Linked DNA regions of Homo sapiens: region 2 is linked to region 1. The links come from fine-mapping of genetic effects on gene expression. A gene starts in region 1. The other region holds a variant in brackets. All regions are shown on one strand. Distances are between the middles of the regions.

Region 1 (8,348 bases):
AACATCCCAAATTGTATTTTCTGCTGCTGAAAAAGTGCATCTTCACCTTCTTTCCTGCTAATAAATGCCTGTAGACCATGCATGATAAACCCTCCATGAATGTTCCATCCATCCTCCCCTCTCCTCCCACCAAAACTAGTTTAGTTCAATAACTACTTCCTTCATGATATCTTGTTCTATTTCTCCAGGCAATTTAGTTTCTCCTCCTAAGTCCATTTTGCTTTAAGAATCAATAGCATAGACTACATTTCATTGTTTCAATACATAATAGATCTGCACCTCCTGATACTAGAGAGGACACAGAAAGGGCACTCAATAAAATGCTTGCTGATTAATCAGCCTGTAGGATACTTGAGTCTGGGATTCTAGGTTTCTAATTTCTACATGCTTAATTAAATAGGATACACACTTATCTCCTGAGCCCACTAGAAATTCTCATACTGTTGCCAGTTACTTTTGGAGGAATCTCCTGGCCTTTGGTGAAGAATAAGTGGGCCTGTTATCAGGATCATTTATTGTGGGCAATCATACCCATCTGTTTTTCAGTTTTCTCGTAGTAATACACTTAGCTCTTTACACACCGCTTCATACACAACACTTAAAACATTATACCAAATATCGAACAAATTAAAATCAATTTATAATATTTTTATAATACCATAAACAAGTAATGTACCTTGGGACAGTTTGATCAATCTGTTATTCAATCCTCCATCTCCATCCACAATGTAAATATCTCCTGTGTCCTCTACATATAATTCTGCTGGGTTATCAAACTGCAAAGGATTCAAACTAGTGCCTTTTTTGCCTGGAGTACCCAAGACTTGAACAAGATCACCAAAAGAACTGTATTTTTTAACAGTATGACCAAAGAATCCTATAAAGATAGATATGTACATCTCACAAATAAAACCACTATACAAACATTCAGATTTTTCAAGTAAGCTAAGAGCAAAAATTTGATAGAAGTAAATAATAACAAATAGGTGATAGGCTTAGGAAATTACATATAATTGACAAGCACTATAGCTTCTTCGTAAATTACAGCCAAATTTGATCACGAATTAAAATCTCCATTAGTCCAAAATAAGCGGATTCTAAATTCAAATAAATAACATCCCCATAATTGACTCATTATACAGGAAACTCAGAATGCTAACAAAGTATTGGTGCACCATTTTCTTTTTTAATCTTATGACCTTGAATAAGCATTGCTTATGAAAGGAAATCAAGAAGAAAATGTAAAGGGAACAACTTATATTTGAAACTGTTATTTCAATCACTCACATACAGACCTTAAATTTCAGTAAGTCAACAAAAACGTTCTCTATGGTACAGATTTTTTTTTTAACTGCATTTTCACCTTGTGGAGACATTCAAAATTCAACCCAACTTTTCTTTGCTAAGAAGAAAATAATCTTTGTAAATCATGAGTATCTTATTTTCTCACGTTAAAATTTCTTTAAGTTAAAATTATCTTACAAGCAAGAGCATAAAGCAGACTACTAATAAGGGAATATCATAAAGCAGTGAACAGAAATCAATTTGAAGGTACATATGCCAAATTAATTGATAGGTATTCAAAAGACAAACTGGATACATTGAGCTTACCAGAAAGAAAGTGAATCAGCTTGCATTACAATTCTATGTTAAATAATTTATTTACTATTACACTTTTAGACAGTTGAGCTAAAGTTCATAGCAATAAAAAACACATAAGCCTCCAAGTTTCTAAAAACTAGCAAAAAAGACTACCAATAAAAAATTTTCTCAAAAAAAAAAGGCTAATTTGTAGCCATATTTTTCATTAGAGGAAATTTATTCCTTTGGGAAATGGGAATATAAAACTGTCTTCAGATCTCTGGGTAGAAAATTAGCTGTAATGGAAAAAATGAAGAGATCGTCTGTGCTCTTTTTATTTCTGGGAATCAAGGAAGTCTTATTTTTAAAAATCACATGAATAAAATGAACTCAAAGAAATGGTCTTTAACAGTGGATCTTCAGGAAAAAAGTGAAAATAGACTCTCATTATAGTATTAACAATTCACTCAGTGATAATCTATAGACTTTTTTTGGTTGAACCAGATTCATACTATGTAAAACACAGCATGAAATAAATGGGCCATCAGCTGAGGCCCAGAAATCTTATGGGTTCTGAGAACAGCTGTGATAATGGCACTACTTACAGAAACTGAGAACTCATTATCTCTAAAAAATGGTATCTGAATCAGCCAGGACTGTAGAACCAGGATGTCTCTCAATTCAAGAACATAACTGGGCCAAGGAATACTAGAAATAATGTCTTTATAATCCCATTTCTTCCTGAATTCCTAGGGTAATGCCAGGATATCTCAGGTATTGCCTTGTCTTAAGCTACAGCCACAGGTGAATTGTTTCTCTGAAAACTTTCTCCATAGCTGCACATTCAGTTGTGCTCACTTCATTTTTCAGCTTTTTCTACTAAAAATATTTGATGGCAGGAAGATTTCAGACATGCTTCAGTCAGTAGAATTTCAAAAACATTAACAACAGTTTCTGCAATCTTTGCACTTTGAGCAACAAAGCAGTTACGATTTCACAATCTTTTATGAAAGAAAACTGGAAAAGGAAAATAAGAGTCAAGGATTCCAGTCATTGCTTTCAGAGACTGCCACTTTATTTGGCTTCAGTTTAGAGTTATTTAATCTGAGAAGAGCAACTGATGCTTTAAAGAGGAAAAGACCCTAGACAAGTTCAAGGAAAGATCATATTAACAGGCTCCTTGTCAAATTTCTTTCTTTTTTTTTTTTTTTTTGAGACAGAGTGTCGCTGTGTCACCCAGGCTGGAGTGCAGTGGCGCGATCTCGGCTCACTGCAAGCTCCGCCTCCCGGGTTCACGCCATTCTCCTGCCTCAGCCTCCCCAGTAGCTGCGACTAAAGGCGCCCGCCACCACGCCTGGCTGATTTTTTTTTTTTTTTTTTGTATTTTTAGTGGAGACGGGGGTTTCACCGTGTTGGCCAGGATCGTCTCGATCTCCTGACCTCGTGATCCGCCCGCCTCGGCCTCCCAAAGTGCTGGGATTACAGGCGTGAGCCACGGCGTCCAGCCCTTGTTAAATTTCTTAATTCCACAGAAGTACAAAATAAAGTTTGTTAAAAACATGTGATTTCATGAATCGTTAAAGAAATTACAATTAGATTCAGCAACTCTGATTTTAAACAATACAAACAAGGACATGTGCAAAGATGTGATTTCCAGTAAGATAATTTAATAGATATTACTATACATACCACTTCCTACATCCGTGATCCAGACGGATTGTTCATATAGAGTACTGGCTGCAAATATACCATGAGGTGTGTCAACTGTATAATTCCAGGCTCGTAGGAAATATCCATCCTCTGTGAACACTAATATCTTTGGGATGTTATCCCCTCTCTGAAGGTATACAAAAAATAACTTCTTAGGATCAGCTTAAAGGAAAGGTAATCTGTATCTTGGCGAAGAAAAAAAATAACTGAGAATTTTACTACAAAAACCACTTTCAAAATCTAACATATCTTTCACATTCGAAACCAAAATACTTGAGACCAACTCAAAAATAAATTGCACAATTAGCATGATATAAACGCATATGGTCAGTTACTACAGCAAGACAGGAAGGCTGTTACTTCCTTTGTGTTCATAATTTTTTTAAATCTCTATTTACTTACTTGACCTATGTAAACCAATCCATTGAGGGAGTCAACTGCAACACAAAATGTTGTTCCGGTAAAATATTCTGGGTGCTTAGGCCAACCCACATCCAGCCGGTAAAGAATTTTCTCAGTTCTCCAGGAAACTGCAAAAGTAAAGTTCCTCAAAACCTTAAACAAAATCAGACAATTCAGATTTAGTTTACCGTCTAGGTAAGAACAAAAAAAGGGCGGGGGGGCCGGGTAACAGGGCTTATTTTTAAGCATGCCTTGACAACTAGAAGTTTGCTGGACTGAAATAATTCCAAAGAAATGAGCTTAGATGCCTAAAGACCAACACGACCACAATACAAGTCTGCAAATTATTTGAGGATGTAGTAAGAGTTGGGAAAGAGGAAAATGGCGATGTAACATACACAAATTTTTAAACTCAAAGGGTCAAGGCAGTTTGGACCCAGGTGCAGGCTTTGAGACAAGCTACTGAGGGAACCAGGGCCTGCCACCTCCATGCCACGACCGTGGCGACGCCTCCCAACAGGGCTACCCGCACACCCGACAGTCATTTCCTCACTACCCAACTCACTGGAGAGCCACAAAAACGCGAATGCAAAACCAAAAATGCAAGAAAGAAGCCAGCACCGGCTACGCAGACCCAGAATCTCGCCATGACCAGACGGGAAGCCAGGAGAGGGAGGGTCCGCAGGTGTCTGGGGGAGGACCTGACAGCCTCAGGCTGCAACGGTTTGCAGCGGCACAGAGGGTCTGCCCGGGGCCCGAAGACCCTATCTCCGGTTTCCCCTCCCTGGATGCACGAGCTTTGAGTACGAAAGGGAACAGAGACCAGGGCGAATGAAAATCACAGAAGACCAGTTCCGGACTTCGTGTGCATTTCGGGGTCCCCGCCCTCATGTCAGGTGCTTCGGGCTGACCCAGTGACCACCCTTTCCCGCCCTCAGGGCAGTCCGCGCCGCTGACTTTCAGTGGCCACCAAAGTATGGGCGCCCGTAGATATGCCTTAATCGCTCGCCATTTATTCTTTTTAATCCAGAGGGCAAAATCAAAACATCGCACACTCAGACACGAGGTATGGTGGGGATGACATTCAAAATAATGACCGCTAGGCTTCGGGAAGGATTTTTGCCACATCCTATTCCTACCATCCAGGCATCCGCTATGGATGCCTATATTCCCACACCAGGACCCCACCTCTGGCTTTCAGGAAAGAGGGGCCCAAGCTGGCGGCGCAGTGTTGAGTTTACTTGGGCGCGACTGGCTTTATTGTAGGTCCCCATGAGCTGGTGGGGGCTGTAGGGGTAACCAGGCAGGGCGTCTGGCGCTGTTGGGGCTGCGTTTTTCCGGAGTCCCCCTATGCGAGGCCGTGCCCCTCTTCGCCCGGCTCCTGGTGCTCCCCAGCCGCCGGCCCGCTCCCGGAAGCTGCAGCAGCTGGTAACAAAGAGCCTGCCGGGCCGCCTGCTGCCGGGGCCGAGGTATCCAGGAGTCGGGCGGAGCGGCTGGGGATGAGCGCGAGCCGGACCATGCGTCCGGGTTCGCGGCGGTGAGGGTCGCGGCCGGCGGCCGAGGCGCAGGTGCGGGTCGAGAGACCGGCGCCTCCCTCCCCGCCGCCCGTGGACTCTGAGCGCAGGTGTTTCTACTCTGCCGGCCGCTCCACCTGGGAAAGCGCCTTCAAGAGCTACCTCTGGCGGCACCTGGCCCTCAGCTGCAGGGAAACCGCACTCAAACCTGCCGCCGAGCCCGGGTTTTTCTGCAAAACTCAGAGGACCTGGCTCTTGCCCGAGGTGCCCTGAACCATTGTGTGAATAAGCTGGGGAAGCCTGACTGGAGTGTTTTTTCTTTTTAATAAAAAGAGTTTTTCTGAATCTCAATTTTTAGAAATTTTTTTTGCGAAGTTTGCAATACTCTCTACCTCTTCGCATCCTCTCTTGCTCGTGGAGTCTTTTTCCTCCTCAGCTATAAATATTTTTTACTATCGGCGGAGCAGACCAGGGATGAACGTCTTTTAATTGCAAGTATAACTGTTAAAACCACGTCGGGATAGTAGTCAAGATGGATAAAAAGTCCTTTGAAATGGTGCTGGATGAAATTAGAAAGGTAATTAGACCGATTCCATGAATTATTTTATGAGATGAATTCTCGTGTTTTAGACTCTCTTTGAGGTACTGTATGGAGATTGTGCAGAATAAGGGTCCTAGGATTGCCAAATTGGTTTGAATTTTCACGTGTAATGGAGGAGTTTATATCTTGATACGTTTCCAGTACAAATAGAAATTAAGTTACGTTAACGCCAAATTTGAGACTCAGCACGGTGTCGTGGGAATTACATTTGTAAAGCCCTCGGTTCCAAAGCCGGCTTTACAAATCCGTAATAGCTCTGTACTTTTTGGGTAAGGGGTTTAATATTTTTGAGTTTATTGCCTCATCTTTCAGTAACACAAGAGTGACTGAAAACGAGAGGTAATACGCAGAAAGTTTCTTTTATGGTAGTTATTATGATGGGGTTTTCAAATCTAAGCATAAGGTAGAGTATATTTGTTGCGTTGGCCATGCAAAATTCGTGTCCTGATGGTAAGTGTGGCATTAAGTTTAAAGTCACGTTCTTAGGAATTGGCCGTCAATAACTTGAGCTTCAAAACTTTTTTCTCCTGCTTTCCAAGTTTTTGCTGCTTTTTGAGGCTGTTGTGTGGATCGCATTTCCCAGAGTGAACCAGACAGCAACAATTCTGGAAGGTAGTCTTGAGCCTAACAATATCTCAAGCACAAAAATACCGAGAAGTTACTTATTTTAAAATGTAAGGACTTGATGTACCATTGTTACATCAACACACGGTGCTTTCCTTCGGCCTTCCGGGCAATTATTCTTTCGTCAGCTGCATACCTTTACGACCCTTGACTGAAACGGAAGAAATTGTTGCCATGTGCTCTGGTGCTTATTTCAGTTTACAAAGCTATTATTAAAATTGTCTCTGGTCTTGCTGTTTTGCTTTGTTTTTATACAGCTTTTTTCTTTTTTCAAATTGACGTGTTTAAGTTTTCATATTTGATAATACTGAACATTCTTTTTTGAACAAGTTCTGCTTTTGCAAACCTAAGTGTCCAATTAATTTTTGAAATAAAATATTGGTTTGCTAATTATATGCCTAGAAATTTGTCACAATTTGTTCTTGGGCTGATTTTTAATTACTTTTCATGAGAAAATAATTGGTGAGTCCAAGTAGACCAGCAGATTTTTACTTTTGGAAGATACAGGGTCTCAGTGTGCATATTCTCTTCCTGGTGTCATAAAAACGTCACAGTAAATTCTAAAGAGGGGAATAGGAAATTTTCCAGATATGAAAGTGTTGTTCACATGAGATGGCAACTTAAGTCTGTATTTCTGGTCAGCAGTTAAAATATATCTTCTGCTGGCTTTGCCGAGTGATTAGACACATCAACATTGTCATGGTCTATTAAAATGGAATAAAATATTGGCATATCTAAATATGAGCATTACTACTGATTTTCTTAAAAATCGTTCTTTGTAAATGTAAGTCAGTTTAAACCAGGTCATCTCTTGAGTATCACAGTGAGTTTATATGATAGATAATACTGATTGTCACTACTGTCATTTAAAACAGAGGCATATAAGAAGCCACTAGCAGAAGAACTGGGAAAGGGAGTAGAAAGGGGGAAAAAGCAATGGTTAACTGATTATTCAAAAAGGAGGGAATGATAGCTATTAATTAGTGAGCACTTACTTTGTGAGCCTGTTTTTAAGCACTTTCTCCAGTCATTATTTGTTTTGATTCTCCTTACAACGCATGAGGTGTAGGCACTGTACTTCTTGCTTATAGCTGGTGGCCTATTCTCTGTGAGGTTAACTATCAGCTCAAGACTCCCTAGGTGGTAAGTTGGGGGCTGGGGGCAGTATTCAAACTATGCTTGCAGAGCACCATGCTGTCCTGCCTGGGGTTACAGCTGGGCCTCTCAGGCATTGATGGAAGAATTGAGATATGACTTGGCATCAGTACAATCCAAGACTTTGTTCAGAAACTTGTATTTGACTGTGTCCGATTATTACATTGATAATAAAACTCCTAGGAATACATTATTTAGAATGCCATTTTCTCCCTTTTCAGTGAATATTGAACTACTGAGCACCCAGGATATTTCAGTTGACTGGTCATAATACTTTCTCCTAGCAGAATGATATATGTGAAAAATATGAATATTAAAATTATTTTATAGTACAAGCAAAGGGATTAGTTCATTTTTAATGATTAGTGGCTACTGACTTAAGATAGCTGTTTCCATCTCTAAGCTGAGCAAATAGCTGCAAGGGGAGCATGTGTGATTTAGTGGGCTCTAGATAGTGCTGCATCAAAGCCACCAACTTCTCTCTCACCCACTGATAGATTCCGAAAAGGAAAGGAACCATCACTTACTGAATACCTGTTATATGTCACATCTAATGTCCACTATTATAGTCTTCATAGTAATTCTTTGAGGTTGGTGAATGGTGTTCCCTCTATGAATGAGGACGCTCAAAAGGAATTAAAATGCCTCTCAAAGTCTACACTGCCAGTTAGTGGCAGGCACAGACATTGAATTCAGGACTTCTTGCATTCTTATGTCCCTATAGAAATACTGAGAGCCTCAACTAGACCTTGTCTTATTCT
Region 2 (8,348 bases), 47 kb after region 1:
AACATAAAATATAACAGTTTCATCTCAAGATGTATATATCTGGATTTTAGGGCCTTAGAGAAACTCTTGCATGTATACACAACCAGAAGATATGTACAAAACATTCATGATAGTATCATTTGTAATAATGAAAACCTAAAAGTATCCAAATAAATAAGTGAACTGTGGCCCGTTTACACTTCTATGTCTTAAATAGCACTAAAAATTAAAGAGCAATAGCTTCCTGCAACATAATATGGAATGTCAAAGGAAATTGCAGAGCACTCATGAGTTTTTTTTTTTTTTTTTTTTTTGAGATGGAGTCTCACTCTGTTGCCAGGCTGGAGTGCAGTGGCAAAATCTTGGCTCACTGCAACCTCTGACTCCCCGGTTCAAGTGATTCTCCTGCCTCAGCCTCCTGAGTAGCTGGGATTACAGGCACACGCCACCATGCCCAGCTAATTCCTGTATTTTTAGTAGAGACGAGGTTTCACCATGTTGGCCAGGATGGTCTCGATCTCCTGACCTCGTGATCCACCCGCCTCGGCCTCCCAAAGTGGTGGGATTACAGGCATGAGCCACCGCCCCCAGCCTACATGGGTATTTTTTAAAAAGGCAAAAGCAAAACTAAATCATAAGTGTTTTAGAAATGTAAATATATAATTTAAAAGGTTCTATTTTAAAAGCAAGAGAATAATCAACAAAATTATAAATTACGGTTTTAGAGAGGTGAGGATGAGACCCAGGAGGAATATGCAAGTAGTTTCAATGGTATTGGTAATATTCTAGTGGTGCTGTTGTGTGGTATATTGATGGTTGTTTACTTTATTCAATAAATACATACATGTTAAATATATCAACAGTATTCCATAATACAAACGCCTTAATTCAATAGATTTCGTTCTAACGTATAGAATATTTAATTGGGGGACGTCCAGGTAGAGATGTTTCGTCAGCCGATAGTTAAAAATATTTATTATTCTGAAGAGAGGTATAAGCCAGATTTGCAGCTTGGGGAGTTATCACTATAAATATCTTTACAGATTTGGAGACCGAATTTCTCATTTTAAAATGTGAGAATTCGGCAGGGCGCGGCTCACGCCTGTAATCCCAGCACTTTGGGAGGCCGAGGTGGGTGGATTGCCTGAGGTCAGGAGTTCGAGACCAGTCTGGCCAACATGGTGAAACCCCGTGTCTACTAAAAATACATAAAAATTAGCCGGGCGTGGCGGCGTGCATCTGTAATCCCAGCTACTTGGGAGGCTGAGGCAGGGGAATTGCTTGAACCAGGAAGGCAGAGGTTGCAGTGAGCCGAGTTTGGGCCACTGCACTCCAGCCTAGGTGACAGAGCGTGAGACTCCATCTCAAAAAAAAAAAAGAAAAAAAAAAGTGGGAATTCAAGAATGGAATAAATGAGAATGGATAAGTTAGAATGTATGATGTATATTCGTAAAAAAGTTAAAGAGATCAGAGAATTTCAATTTAAAGAAAAGGGCATGTTTTCTTAAGAGAGCAGCCACTGTCCTGGAACACCTGGATACATCTTAGCAAGAAAGGATGGTGGGTGATGTCTGAAACCAGAAGCTTAGGAAAGGAAATAGGTGGAAGTTTAGAAAGGATTGTCTCAAGAGAGGGTTTGTGCTATAAGGTGAACATTCAGGGAAAAAAATATATACATACTTAAGGACACATGTCCTGTATGTCAAGAGTGGGAATAGAATTAGGCCTTTTAAAAACATAGCTGTCTTCAGCCAGGGTCATTGGCTCATGCCTGTAATCCCAGCACTTTGGAAGGCTGAGTTGGGTGGATCGCTTGAGGCCTGGAGTTCAAGATGAGCCTGGGCAACATGGCAAAACCCCATCTCTACTAAAAACACAAAACTTAGCTGGGCGTGGTGGCACATGACTGTAATCCCAGCTACTTGGGAGGCTGAGGCATCAGAGAATCGCTTGACCCCTGGCACAGGGGGAGCGGAGGTTGCAGTGAGCCGAGATTGCACCACTGCACTCCAGGCTGCGTGACAGAGAGACTCCATCTCAAAAAAAATAAATAAATAAATAAAATAAAAAGCTGTCCTCATCTCAGTACTTTCACTAGTGCAGAAATTGATAAAATGAAAATGCAGAAACACTGAAAAGTCTTCATCCGAAGCATCTTCCAGAAATTCCCGTATCCTCCTTTCCCAGGATAAGTGAAAGAACATCCACAGATGATAATAATTCATCCACTGGGCTAATTTATATTTTACAGAAAAAGAAGTAGGAAACTTGAAAATGAGCTCATGTTTCATTTCCTGAGGCCCTGCTATGAGGATTCAGTTTGTCATAGGTGTTCATTGCTTGCTGAAACCCTTCTTGCTTTCTAGGCTGAGACATTTGAAACTTTCTTTAGGAAAAAGAAAAACAGTTGCTTAGTCATCTTCCAAAGGGATGGACCATAGCAAGCACTCTTGAGGCTCTTTGTAGTGGCTCCCAGGGAATAATTATTGTTTCTGTTGCTTTGAACCTTCCACCTCAGTGACTGGCAGTGCTAGCATAAATGGTATTTGGCTAATATTAAGAGAAAATGTATTTAGAAATAAGCTAAACTAGCACCTCCAGAACACTTTGCTGTATGACTATGGAGAAGCATCTGACTCAAAGGGAAAGGGGCTTTCAGTTCCAGGCAAAGATTGTCTTTGGCTTAAGTCGGGAGAAATGATGGAAACAGGAAGTTTTTCTGTTGCTCTTTCCATGAGAGGTTAGTTACAAAGTGATGATGACATGGTGATAAAGTAGAGGCCGGAAGAAACGGGATGGCAATTATATGACAATACAGACCAGGAATGGGCCTCGAGTTTTTAAGGTAGCATTAGATCAGAGAGAGAAGAGAGTTGATAAATGTATGGACATACCAAATCAATCTCTATCAGTCTTCCTTTCACTTGAAATTAGGGGACAAGGGAGACATTGTGAAAATTAGCCCAATCTTGCCATTGTAGAGAGAAGTTAACTCAGTCCTTAGAAATACAGCCCAGCTTCCATTCATGGTAATAATAGTTACCATTTATTAATGTTAGTCATTATTCTGAATATTTTACATGTAATTTTCATAAGATTCTCATACAGGCAACTCTCTTTGGTAAATATTATATTACCATCCCCATTTTACAGATGAGAAAAATAAAACACAGAGGTTAAATAGCTTACCCAATGTCACACACTAGTTCATGACAGAGCAAAGTTTTCTTTGTATCTGGGCAGTATGAGCCCAGAGCCTTCTCTCCTGCCCACTGTGCCTCCAGCAACATTTCTACTTGGAGCTGTAAGCGAGGATGTTTAAGGGAGGTGCAGAGAAAACTATCCTAGAGCAGACAGTTGCTGACTCTGCACACATTATGCATGTCTGTTTTAATCTGTGTTCTTGTCTCCTTTCCTAAATTTCTAAAACTCTGTATTAATTATTGTAATTACAAACTGTGGATGACAGCCATAGTAGTTATTTCCACAATTTGAGTTTGTGGAAAAGGCAATCAAGATTATCAAGTAGTTGGTATAAATAACCCATAACCTGGAAAATTTTTTACTTTTGTTTTTTTCTTTTTTGAGTTGGGGTCTCGCTGTGTCACCCAGGCTGGAGTGCAGTGGAGCCATCTTGACTCACTGTAACCTCTGCTTCCCAAGCTCAATCAATCTTCCCACTTCAACCTCCAGTGTAGCTAGGACTATAGGTGCATGCCACCATGCCTGGTTAATTTTTGTATTTTTAGTAGAGATGGGGTTTTACCATGTTGCCCAGGCTGGAATCTGAGAAAAGTTTTAAGATGAAGTTGCAAAGAAGGAAATAACTAGGTGGTTGGCAGAAGAAAAACCAGAAAAGACAAGAAGGCCAGGGAGAGATTAGAGATTTTTTCTACTGTTTTCACAAAATAATACAATATAATATAATAAATGCCATACAATAAATATAATGGTATACAAAAGAAAAACAAGATATATTTGGGATATTGATATGAGAGAAATGAACATCAGAAAATTAGAAAATTGGTGTTCTTAGTATTGGAATAACCACAAAATTGTCTGTGGTTCTATGTGGTCTGATGAAAGAAGGAATCCTAGTACAGGATCCTAAGGATCTGGATTTGAGAAAGAGCTTTGCCATTTGAGAGCTGTTTTCATTTGTGATTTATATATTCATTCA[T/C]TCAGCAAGTATTGTTGAACATCAATCATGTGCCCACGTTGTTCTAATTGTTGCAGATGCAATGGAAATGTTAGACCAAGTCACTCTCCTCATGGAAATGTATAGTGCAAGGCAGGGGTCAGCAAACTTTTTTTGTGAAGGGACAAACAGTAAATATTTTAGGCCTTACAGCTTGTATGGTCTGTGTCACAACTACTCAAATCCACGGGTGCAGTGCAAAAGTGAGCACAGACAATACAAAAATGAAAGAGCTGGGCATGGTGGCTCATATCTACAATCCCAGCAGTTTGGGAGACCAAGGCTGAAGGATCATTTGAGCCCAGAGTTTGAGACCAGCCTGGGCAATATAGTGAGGCCCCATCTCTAAAAAAAAAAAAAATTAAAAATTAGCCAGGTATGGTGGTGTGCACCTGGAGTCCCAGCTGTTGAAGAGGCTGAGGTAGGAAGATTGCTTGAGCCTGGCAGGTCGAGATTGCAGTGAGCTGTGATTGTGCCACTGCACTCCAGCCTGGGCAACAGAGTGAAATCCTATCTCAAAAAAAAAAAAAAAAAAAAGAAAGCAACAAAAGGACATACTGTGTTCCAATAACACTTTATGTTTTAAAAACAAGTGGTAAATTAAATTTAGCTGGCAAGCTAAAGTTTGTCAATTCTTGGTCTAGAAGAAGAAACAGACACAAGCCAAAAAATTATGCATATGATAACACGTGCAAAGATCCGGTGGCGAGAAGACATATCAAGCTTTGGAGGCACTGATAGGAGACCAATGGAGCTGCTTCACGGAGAGACACATGAGTGAGGCTGGAAAGGGAGGAAGGGGCAGGCCAGCAGGGTCTTGTAGGACACTTAGGAGTTTGGTCTTTACAATATTGACAGTTGGCAATTTTTTGATTATTTTAAGCAGGATGAAGACATGATCAGATTTGAGTTTCAAAAGCTCACTCACTGCAGTGTTAGAATGAGTTGGGTTAAATTTTCTCATCTGAAACATAAGGATGGATACACTTGCCCTGTGTATTGAACAGGTCATTGTGTAATCAGTGATCACACAAGATTTATACAAGGTGCATAGAAGTGTTTTATGAAATATAAATGCTATAGAAAATTACACAGCAATATTTTACAGGAAGCAATACCACCAGATGGTCATATTCTTTCAAGTTTTTTCTGTGAACAAAGGCAGTCTGAACTCATAAAAGAAATCTTTTTGTTTATGTTATCAGGCTTCCCTCACCAGGGTAACTACCCCTTAGGGAGTTCACTAAAGAGAAGGAATGTCTTTCACTCTCTCATACTTTCTCCTCTCCCCTCTCCCAAGCACATCTGAGTTGCTGCCTGTTCTTCACACTTAGCTCCAAACCCATGAAAAATTGCCAAGTATAAAAGCTTCTCAAGAATGAGATGGATTCTAGGGTGTCTTCACCTGAGAAGCAAGATAAAGAGAATTTCGTGGGTAAGTTCCTTTTTCCTGTCTTAGGCTTGTTTTTTACATATATGGCAAAGCAGGAGTTGTAGCATTATAGACAGGTATAGAGTAAGTATGAGATATATTTGCAGAAATCGGCCTCAATTTCATTTATAGCCCAGGATTTTGAATTCATTGCTTATGCTGATTTCATTTGCTTCTTGAACGGCAGTCTATAACTTGCTTTATTTTTCCTTCAATTTTAGATAAAGTTGGTGTTTATCTTTGAATTTCTTCTTTCTGTATGAAATCCTTCTCAGGATTTTGAATTCATTGCTTATGCTGATTTCATTTGCTTCTTGAACAGCAGTCTATAACTTGCTTTATTTTTCATTCAATTTTAGATAGAATTGGTGTTTATCTTTGTATTTCTTCTTTTTGTATTAAATAACAAAGATATGTTGAAGAGGCTGACTTTTCTCCAACTTCAAACATTTTCTGATGATGCTGAGATTAAAAAGAAAAGTTGGTTTGAGCTGTATCCTGTTTGATAAATGGAGAGAAGTTGAGAAAAAAAACTTAGCTTATAAGTACCAACTACTATCATTAATACTAATGACTATTATGTGTTACAAAGCATTTTGCTTGCATTATCTCTTTCAATTTTACAATAATTCTGAGGTAGATCCTCTTAGAATCTCATTTTACAAATGAGAAAACTGAGCATTGGAAAGTTTAAAAAGTTGTTCAGAAAGTGATTATGATGATGGTGTGCGTGTGTGTGTGTGTGATGATGGTGTGAGTGTGCGTGTGTGTATGACCTAACCTGTGCTCTGTACCTTATGTTGCCAAAAAAGCCATAGTACATGTTAGAAATAGAGAACACGTTTGGCATTACTAATACATAAAAGAAAAAACTAGGCTGCATGCACTGGTGCATGCCCTGTAATCGCAGCACTTTGGAAGGCCAAGGCAGGCAGATCACTTGAGCTCAGGAGTTCGAGACCAGCCTGGGCAAAATGGCAAAAACTCATCTCTACAAAAAATACAAAATTTAGCCAGGTGTGGTGGCACATGCCTGTGGCTAAGTGGGAGGTTGAGGTGGGAGGATTGCTTGAGCCCAGGAGGTTTAGGCTTCAGTGAGCTGAGATTGCACCACTGTACTCCAGCCTGGGTGACAGAGTGAGACCCTGCCTAACAAAGAAAAAAAAATGGAATAAAGAAAGAAAAAAGAAAAAGTATACATTTAGAGACATTTACCTGAATTGGAAAAGAAACTTTTCTTTTGAAGTAGGCATGAAAAGCTTGAAGGCAGTAAATATCATCTGGAAATGCAAGCGGGAGATCTCAAGAGTCCCCTTATTTATCCTTCATGAGACATTTAGTTTCCATTTTAACAGGTGAAGACATCAACTGGGTAGATGGCATGACTGAAGCTGTATCATCAGTGAGATTCTTGAAAGTACTCATGAGTTTTCTTGGTTTCGATATTTGAATATGAAAAACTGGCACTATCACAGAATGAACAAAATGGGGCTGATATATTTGCAATGTCTGATTTCCTGTGCTTTTGTAGTTTTTTAGGAGAGATACAGTGTGGACCATTCTCTGAGATCTGTGGACTAAGTTTGCCCTTGCAACTCAGATATATATAAAAAATATATATAATACAATATAACATATATAACATATATCTTATATAATATAGTATATAATGTATGATATATATTATGTAATATAGTATATATAATATATTGTGTAATATAGTATATATAATATATTGTATAATATAGTATATATATTATGTATTCTATAGTATAGTATATAATATGTAATAATATATATTATATAATACAGCATATATAATATATATTATGTATTATAGTATATATAATTATATATACTATATACTATAATATATAACTTGTAATATGTACTTATGAATACTTGATATACCTGACAGCACATAAGTGGCAAATATGTTTTTCCAGTTGTCACTTATTTTTTCACCTTTTTAATGATGTGTTTGATATCAAATATATAAAATTTCAATATATAATATATATAAAATATATGATATAAAATATAATATATTATATATAAAATATATGATATATAATATATTATATATAAAATATATGATATAAAATATATTATATATAAAATATATGATATAAAATATATTATATATAAAATATATGATATAAAATATATTATATATAAAATATATGATATAAAATATATTATATATAAAATATATGATATAAAATATAATATATTTTATATAAAATATATGATATAAAATATCATATATTTTATATAAAATATATGATATAAAATATAATATATTATATAAAATATATGATATAAAATATAATATATTATATATAAAATATAATATATTATATATAAAATATATGATATAAAATATAATATATTTTATATATAATATATGATATAAAATATAATATATTATATATAAAATATATGATATAAAATATCATATATTTTATATGAAATATAATATATTTTATATAAAATATAATATATTATATATAAAATATATGATATAAAATATATGATATAAAATATAATATATAAAATATATGATATAAAATATAACATATTATATATAAAATATATGATATAAAATATAATATATTATATATAAAATATATGATATAAAATATAATATATTATATATAAAATATATGATATAAAATATAATATATTATATATAACATATAATATATTATATAAAATATAATATATTATATATAACAT

The links. PIP is the estimated chance that this variant, and not a neighbour inherited with it, causes the effect.
Region 2: its variant is fine-mapped to the expression of PROSER1 in whole blood (TOPMed, PIP above 0.99).

Annotation. Positions count from the first base shown.
Region 1 is chr13:39,034,634-39,042,981 of GRCh38, reverse strand. PROSER1 (proline and serine rich 1) reads left to right here and starts at 4,893. Exons shown (of 13, transcript NM_025138.5): 1 at 4,893-5,784. The coding sequence starts at 5,740. It overlaps NHLRC3 (NHL repeat containing 3), which reads right to left and starts at 4,526. Exons shown (of 7, transcript NM_001012754.4): 1 at 4,259-4,526; 2 at 3,694-3,846; 3 at 3,271-3,418; 4 at 677-877. The coding sequence starts at 4,342. RefSeq lists a silencer at 5,183-5,412 and an enhancer at 6,555-6,664.
Region 2 is chr13:38,987,934-38,996,281 of GRCh38, reverse strand. It overlaps STOML3 (stomatin like 3), which reads left to right and starts at 5,451. Exons shown (of 7, transcript NM_145286.3): 1 at 5,451-5,612. The coding sequence starts at 5,561. The variant T/C (reference allele first, on the strand shown) is at 4,160.